Linked DNA regions of Homo sapiens: region 1 is linked to region 2. Evidence: fine-mapped expression QTL. A gene starts in region 2. The other region holds a variant in brackets. All regions are shown on one strand. Distances are between the middles of the regions.

Region 1 (4,514 bases), 130 kb after region 2:
CTGGGTGTCCTCTAAGTCAGTTCAGTCCTGACACTGTCTGCCTGGAATTCGCATCAGATCCCACAGGTTGAGGGCTCAGATGCTTCCACTCTAGATGGCAGTTGCAAATCCCAGGTTGTGATCTGTACCTCTGACTGATGGTCTATAAATTGGGGTTCTCACAACTCCCTTCTCCAGGAGTGGGATGGCTGGCATGGCTCAAGAACTCAGGGAAACATTCTTGCTTACATTTACCCAATTATTATAAAGGATATTACAAAGGATACAGATGAACAGCCAGATGGAGGAGATGCACAGGGTAACCTCTTATTTGTGGAAAGGGGTGTGGAGCTTTCTCTGGGCGCCACCCTCCAGGAACCTCCATGTGCTCAGCAACTGGAAGCTCTCCAAATCCAGTTATTTTAGGTTTTTATGGAGGCATCATTGCATAGCTTGATTGATTACATCATTGGTTGTTGGGTGATTAACTCAACCTTTGGCCCCTCTTCCCTTCCCTAAGGTGAGGGGTGGTGGTGGGATTGTGGGCCTGAAAGTTCCAACGCTCTAATCACAGGGTTGGTTCACTTGGCAATCAGCCCCCATCCTGAGGCTGTCCAGAAGCCCCTCACTACCACTCATCTTATTAGCACACAAAAAGACACATCACCTTGGAGATTCCAAGTGTTAGGAGCTGCATGCCAGGAAACAAGAAGAGCAGATATATATTTCTTCTTGTAAATCCCAGTATCTCGCACTAATTCCATTCATGAGGGCTCCACCGTCATCACCAAATCACCTCCAAAAGCTCCACCTCCTAATACAATCACATTGGGTGTTAGGATTTCAACATAGGAATTTTGGGGGGACCCAAACATTTAGACCATAGCAGTTGGGCACATTGCCACCCCAACACATCTGCTATTCTATGAGGAAGCAAGGTGTCAGTATTGGGCTGGCAGCCCTGTTTCTTTTAGTCTTTGTCCACAGTCTGATACATCCATCCTTAAACCTTATTGGTACCTGCACTTCCTCCCTTTTCTAGAGCCAGGGTCTCAGCCTGAGTGGCCGTGGACCGCCTGCCAGTGCCCCCCTCCAGGGACTGTGGAGCCTCTCTAGCCATCTTCATCTCAGGGCTTGTCCAGTAGACCACGCATTTGTGAAAGGAAAATGAAATCTGCCGGCCAGGTGTGATGGCTCACACCTGTAATCCCAGCACTTTGGGAGGCCGAGGTGGGCGGATCACAAGGTCAGGAGTTCGAGACCAGCCTGGCCAATATGGTGAAACCCCGTCTCTACTAAAAATACAAAAATTAGCCAGGCATGGTGGTGGGCGCCTGTAGTGCCAGGTATTCGGGAGGCTGAGGCAGGAGAATCGCTTGAACCTGGGAGTCGGAGTTTGCAGTGAGCTGAGATCAAGCCACTGCACTCCAGCTTGGGTGACAGAAAAGAAAAAAAAAAAGAAAAAAAAGAAAAAAAGAAAAAAAAGAAGGAAGCTGTGGACCCCAGACTCACTATGCCAAAGGGAAAGTTAAGCTTGAGAACTGAGTCATGCAAAAAACCACTTTCCTTTTTATCCCGCACCCCGCAACGGATAGCCGTGATTTCACATGCTTGCTTATATAAAATGTAGATTTGCTGAGCCTGAGAAGAATGCATACTTGGCTTTTCCCCTATCCCCTTCTTTTCTCTTTCTCTTTCTTTCTTTCTTTCTTTCTTTCTTTCTTTCTTTCTTTCTTTCTTTCTTTCTTTCTTTCTTTCTTTCTTTCTTTCTTTGTCTGTCTTTCTTTCTGTCTGTCTTTCTTTCTGTCTGTCTTTCTTTCTGTCTGTCTTTCTTTCTTTTTGAGACGGAGTCTTGCTCTGTCGCCCAGGCGGAGTGCAGTGGCGCGATCTCGGCTCACTGCAAGCTCCACCTCCCAGGTTCACGCCATTCTCCTGCCTCAGCCTCCTGAGTAGCTGGGACTACAGGCGCCCACCATCACGCCTGGCTAATGTTTTCTATTTTTAGTAGAGATGGGGTTTCACCATGTTAGCCAGGATGGTCTCGATCTCCTGACCTTGTGATCCACCCGCCTCCCCCTCCCAAAGTGCTGGGATTACAGGTGTGAGCCACCGCGCCCGGCCCCTTCTTTTTATATGTAAGATGCAGATTCACTGAATGCCAATCAAAGCCTCCGAGGATGTAACCACTTGCCTCATGGGCACCCCTCTCTCCTTTTCCCCTCCTGCTTGCTCTTTCTCAGACCCCTCTTTGGAGAAAAGCCCAGGCCGCAGACCCTACTGTAACTTGTGTTTCTTTTGCTTGGGTACATCCCAACCTTGGCAAAATAAACCTCTAAAGGATTGAGCTCTGCCTCGGACACTTCTTGGGGCACACCCTCATGCTCACTTATCCAGCCCCCAGTGGGCGAGAAACACCCACCAGACCCGTGGGCCCCATGGGATGTTCAGTGTCATGGTTTCCTGGTGGGCTAGTGTATAATTACTTAATCCTGCTCCTTGGCTATTTCCTAATGTACTCATCCCCAAGGTAGGGCCTCTTCCCTGGATTTCTGGTGTTTTGGAACGCCGGGCATCTTTGGATGTCAGCACAGGGAGAGGTTCCTGGGCTTTGGAGGGTCTGGTAGGAACCTTGTCTTCCCACTGCATAAGGTGGGTGGGGAATGTTGGAAGGATTCCAATGACAGTGGTGCTGTAGGGCCCCTCCTTTTGGCTTTTACATGTGGGACAAGGAGGCTGGTGAGCA[A/G]CTTCCACTGAAGAGTGACCACAGGAGTGGTGACAAATGTAGAGGCCAAGGGCCAGAACCTTTAGAAACCTGTTGCTCTGTTCCAGCAAGAGGTACCTGAGGACCTCACAGGTGCCGATCATAAATCTGCACTGTATCTCAGCATGAAAACATGCGGCTTCCCTCCTTCGCAGAGACGCTGTCTTTGGTTTGAAAGGGCTGGGACAGAGAGAGGATTGGTCCCTGCCCCTGGTTTCTGTCCAGTGAGGACTGAGGCTGTGCCCTGACAGTGCTGTTTTGGGAGCAGGCACCTCTGGGGGCTCTAAGGGAGGCTTTGTTATGTGAACAGATCAAGTGTGTGGTTTTAATTGGGGAGGGTAAAGTATGGATAGTGAGCAGTGCCAGCATTGCTGACAAGTGCAAACAGCCTTTTCATCTTCTGTTTTTCCCATTTTAAGAGGCCCCGAGAGCCCCATCGCTGAGGCTGACTTTCCAGGTCGGGGGGCACGGGGACCCTCCATATTATTGATGTGCCCTCCAATCAGGCCACTGGAGCCTCTTTGGCCAGGTGGGCTCTCGAGGGAATGAGAGGAAGTGACAGCATGCCCTGATTTGGGGCTGTGTGTGCCCTGATGGGGGCTTCCCTGGAACATGTGTTTTCCTGATGATTGGGACAAGTTGCAGAACAGAACTGGTTCTCGGCAGAGTACTCTGCCCACAGAGTTCCCCCTCTTTGATATGAAAAATAAAACGTGATTTCTCCAAGAATAAAAATTAGAATCAGGGTTGTGTTCCCTTTTTACACTCCTTAGAGCCTCTGATCATTTCCAGCCAAGGAGCATGCGGCTGTGTTTCCCAAAGATAGTTGCACACGGTCTTCCCAAGTCAGAGTAGCTTGCTGGAGGCACAACCCAGTCTTTACCCAGATGGCGATGGGGTGGTTCGAATAGTTGGTTTGGAAAATGATCTCCACTCTGACCCCATACCAGTTTTTATAACGCTTATCTGATTTTGAACATACTCTGTTCCTGGTGCTTCCTACCCATCTATTAACAAGGGGTCCGTGCTGGGAGGGTCACTGTGTGCAAACGCTTCCATTAGGAATCCCAGTGAGGAGGCTTTTCCTTTCCCTTGGTGCTTCAGGGGGACAACAGCAACAGAGGTTATAAAACAAGGAGCATAGATGCTGGAGAGGAATTGGGAGGGAGGGATGGAGAGAGAACTGGGTTGGTATTGGCTGTCCTGACTTTGAGAGGCTCATGGGAAATGTTGGGTGGACACATGGGTGTGGTGTCTGGAGCTCAGCAGATGGGCCTGGACTGGAAAGGAAGACTCAGAGCCATCACCACAGAGATGGCGGTGAGCTATGAAAGTGCGTGAGCTCACCTGGGCAGATGAGGAGGGACAGAACCCCAAGGACTCCACCATATGACAATGCCAGCAAAGAAACCAAGAAAAAACTGGTGATGGTGTAGATGGAGTCAGGAAGCAATACAGGGCAATTTGGGGGGATTATATGGGATGATGCATGTAAATACTTGTGTAATTTCTGATAATGGTAGTAGATGTTCAGTAAGTGGAATTAAAAAAATATCGTCTATATGCATATATGTACATAAATGCACACCCAGTATAATTCATAACGTATATTCTCACACACACACACGTGCGCATAACTGTCCCTCAACAATTGCAGAACGAGAGCTGGGGAGCAGCGGGCTTAATGCTGTAGAAGTTGGTTAGCAGTGTCAAATGCCATGGAGTTCTGAGAATGGGTGATGGGATTGGGCATTTGGGGGATTATTAGTCACCT
Region 2 (4,000 bases):
TGCTGTATTGCTTGGAGCTCTCTTTCCGTACCTTTCTTAAATAAATAAATAAAACAAATCAATTCACATATATTTTGGAAGCATCTCTCATTCATAAATGGGAGATCACTGGAGGTCACCAACTGGCTCCCCCTTCTGTTTAATTCATCACTGACACCTCCGAAACATCTCCCAAACACACCCAATTCTCGACATCTCCACTAACCCCACTTTAATCCAAAACACTATCACCTCTTGCCAGCTGACAGTAACAGCCTCTGAACACTCTTTCACTTGGGCACCCCTCAACCCATTTTTGGTATTGTGGTCAGAAAACTCTTTTCAAATCTCCTTATCATCTGATTCCTTTTTTTTGGTGGGGGTGGGGTTGGGGGGGCACTGTGTAGTCTCCATAACACTGAACCCAGTGTGCCGCCAGTCTTCCCACTAGACCGAAAGTTCTCTGAGTACAGGGGGCTTGCAACTCATTCTTCGATCTTCAGTGCCTGGCACATAGTGGGTGTATACTATTTTTTGAATAGTATACAATGTCAATAAACTGTAATTCACTAATTTGTTAGGCTATTGTGTGTTTCTCTCTGAATCCCTTAAAGGCAGGGATTTTTGTCTGTTTTGTTCACTGATGTACCCTAAGAACGTAAAAAAAAAAAAAGCCTTATGATTAGAGAGCTCTTTATGAACTTTTGTTGGAGGAATGAATGAACGGATGAATGAATGAATGAATGAATGGGGGAGATGATCAAATGCGAACATAACTTCCTGCCAGTCCAGGGTCATGCCTTGTATTGTTTCAAGCTCTTAAAAAGTGCTGCACTGCGAACTTCTAGGCAGAAAATGTCTCCAGGAAATTGGAATTTGTACTGGAGTGCTTTAAACAATGCCGGCCAGAGGCTTAGTCCTGTTAAAGATAAGAACTGGGGGAGAAGGCAGCGTTTGGCCACGGGCCAGCATTTTGAGATCAGTCACTCTATCTGTGGAATTCCCTACCCCCTGTTCATCCCTTGGCCATCTCGTTAAATTGGAAAATAAATCCCATCCCTGCTAAAGTGTTGGCTGATAAAGGCTTGAGCTATAGCCCCTTCAAGGGGAATTTGCATTTTAATAGAGGATCGTCAAGCCCCAAAGGAATCAATATCTCTAACGGTGAAATTTCAAGCACCAGCAACCGAGATATTTTGGGACTACACTCTCTAGCGTTTCTCATCCAACAGTAAGGTCTGCTAGAAAGACACGGAAGAATGGTCTCAGGAAATGACCGGCCGTTTCCCTTTATTACTCTGAACTTTGCCTTTTCACGTCTGGTCCCTTCAGACTCCCTAACGCTGGTGATCTCTTAATCTGTCAATGCAGCCCTTTTCAACACAAGCAGAGTCTTAAAGTTGGCTCATCAACAGGGCCACAAAGGAATTATGGCAATCAAAACTTGCAGGATTTCCCGGTATTCCAAGGGAGCCAGTACTTAGATATTTTAAACTCTATGTTGGCAAGAGGGAGTGGAGATGGTTTAATCGGTTATTAATGATATTGCGCATTTAAATTCGTTTTGTGCAATTTTTTTTTAAAGCCCAAACTTTTAACTTGTATCAAAAGCATGCAAACCAAAGGTGGGTAAGGGACATCGTGTGTGTCCTGGCAATGTTCTCGGAATGTCCTCCAGAGCTGAGTTCTCTCAGCGGATGGCTTGGGAGATTCTCGAACTGCAGAAAAGCAGCATCTTGGATCTTGGATTTTTGCATTCAAGAGGCTCCTGTTCGCCACACCTGCGGCCCAGCGCTCGGAATTTCCCTCCTGTCTGCTCCCAGCCCGTCTCCCCGTCCTCAGCGCCCCGCGCGCCCATCCCGAGCCGTCCCCAGGCTCTGAAGGCTCGGCTGGCCCGCTGCCGCTATCGGGCCCCTCCGCGCAGCCGACCCAGGGCTCCGCCGCGGAGGCTGATGCCGTTGCCCTTGATGCGCTGCCGCCCCCGCTCTCCTTCCGCAGACCTGCAGCCGCCAGGGCGCGAGGCGTGAGCGCGGAGGCTGGGACGCCAGGACCGCACCTGCGCCTTCCCCGCCCCTCTCCCGGCTCCCGGGTCCCGGCTCCCGCTCCCGCCCCAGCTGGGGCCCAGCGCACGGCGGCGGGGCTCGCGCCCGGGGACGGCAGCGGCTCGCGCCCGGTACGGCAGCAGCGGCGGCGGCTCGCGCCCGCGCTCGGGCCGGGGAGCGCGCGGGGCGGGCGGGGGAGGGCGCAGCGCGGCGCGGCCGGCGGGCGGGCGGCGCGGCGGCGGCGGCATGGGCGCGGGCACCGGCGGGGGCTGCGGGCGCCCGGCTCCCCGCCCGGCCCGGCCCGCTCCCGGCGCGCGGCCGCCGCAGCCCTGGCAGCCGGCTGGGAGGCCGTCCCTGCACCCGGCGCAACTTGCCTCGGACCCTCTGTGAGGAGAGGCGGCGGCGCGCGCCGGGCCGGGCGGGAGCGGGCGAGGCGTGCGGGCGCCCGGCGCGATGCCTCCGGCCGGCGGCCCCCGAGCGCCGCGTCCCGCCGCGCTGCCCCGCAGCCTGTCCCGCCTGCGCGAGTGCCCGGGCCGCTCCCGCATCGTGCTGGCGCTCGGGGCCACGCAGATGGCGCTCGGATGCCTCATCGTGGCAGTCAGCTTCGCCGCGCTGGCGCTCACCACCTCGGCCCGCGTCCGCCACTCCTGCCCCTTCTGGGCAGGCTTCTCGGTGAGTGTCCGCGACCAGGCGGGGACGGGCTCCGGGGACTGCGCGGGCCGGGGGGGCTAGGCGCTGCGGCCGCCGGGACGCCACCGCGGGCGGCAAGTTCCGGCGGCCAACGCCGGGGCCGAGTAGCTGCAGCGCGGGGCGCAGTTCGAAACTCCGAGCAGAATAACTCCAGGGCCCGGCTCGCCGCTCTCGGAGCATCGCGTTCCCGCTCCTATTGCGCTGATTCCCGGAGTTACTTTTCTTGGAGGAAACAGCAGCCAGGCGCCCGCCGTCCTCCGAGCCCGCAGCGGCCGGAGGGAGCGCCGGGGACCGCGCGCGCCGGGGACACGACCTCGCCATCCGAGCGGCCGCGGCCGAGGCGAGGAGGTGGGAGCCGAACCCGGAGCGGAGCAGCATGTGGGCGCGCCTCTCACCCTCGCGGCGGCCCTGACCGGGGGCGGTGGGGGTGGGGGGTGGGGTGGGGGGGCGGGGGAGGGGCGCCTCCCGTCGGGTTTTGGGTCAGCCCGGATATCGGGGATCGGCCGGGCGGCCCCTGTGGTCGCTCGCTGACTTGGCTTCGGGGACTTCTGGTTTCCCGCGTCCGCCCAGAACGGCGTGGTTTGTGGGCGACGGGACTGGGCAGGCGACCCGCATCCGGCGTCCTGGGGCAGGGGGCAGGCAAGGGGGGGCGGCGTGCTTTCTGAGCTCCAGACCTTAAGGATGACCGATTTTCAGACTCTTAACCACCAAATCAGAGAAGCCAGTGGTGAACAAATCTCCATAGAAGAAAGACGTCTCGATTAAAGTGACTGTCCCCAAGAGTTAATTTTTGGCGTTTTGTAGCATTTTGATGAAAGTCGGTTTTTTTCCTATATTAACAAAGAATGGACGTTATGGGAATGGGAGAGATATATATGCAGAGCAGATATTTATGAAGAGAGGCACTTGTTCTGAGAACTCTTGACATCTGTAACTGCATTTGGTGGATCGTGCTGAAATACATCGCATAGGCTTGTAAACTCAGTATGTTTTACTTCCATCTACAGAAATCCAAACCAATCCTTTAAAACTAATGTTTGCTATTTGTTCTTGAGTTTTAAAATTTGAAAAATTCGTCCAGCTTTGCTTATTTGTTTATTTCATAATGGTCTTTGTTTTTTAAGTTCATTGCATGGCTTTTACCATAAGATCTGAGCAAAATTGCCTCTGGAACACCTCGATCGATACAGGTGTGGTTGTTCATCCTAATGGGAGTATTAATTTTCGAAGCGTATTTTAGATCAAGGGTGAGCCTTGGAGAGCTGAATAGGAACAACAGACTGTGTGGT

Which allele goes with the higher level. Positions count from the first base shown, and alleles are read on the strand shown. Sizes are in standard deviations (SD) of each study's normalised expression.
For the expression in spleen of the gene that starts at base 2,219 in region 2, allele A in region 1 goes with a higher level than allele G (small effect, 0.40 SD a copy in GTEx).

Evidence for each region. PIP is the estimated chance that this variant, and not a neighbour inherited with it, causes the effect. A credible set is the group of variants that fine-mapping cannot tell apart.
Region 1: its variant is the best candidate, but not a certain one, in a credible set for the expression of ENTREP2 in spleen (GTEx, PIP 0.70).

The regions. Positions count from the first base shown.
Region 1 is chr15:29,441,409-29,445,922 of GRCh38, reverse strand. The region is part of intron 1 of ENTREP2 (endosomal transmembrane epsin interactor 2); the gene reads left to right. Among named protein-coding and RNA genes, the nearest start is that of ENTREP2, 130 kb to the left of the region's middle. The variant A/G (reference allele first, on the strand shown) is at 2,723.
Region 2 is chr15:29,569,198-29,573,197 of GRCh38, reverse strand. It overlaps ENTREP2 (endosomal transmembrane epsin interactor 2), which reads left to right and starts at 2,219. Exons shown (of 11, transcript NM_015307.2): 1 at 2,219-2,693. The coding sequence starts at 2,475.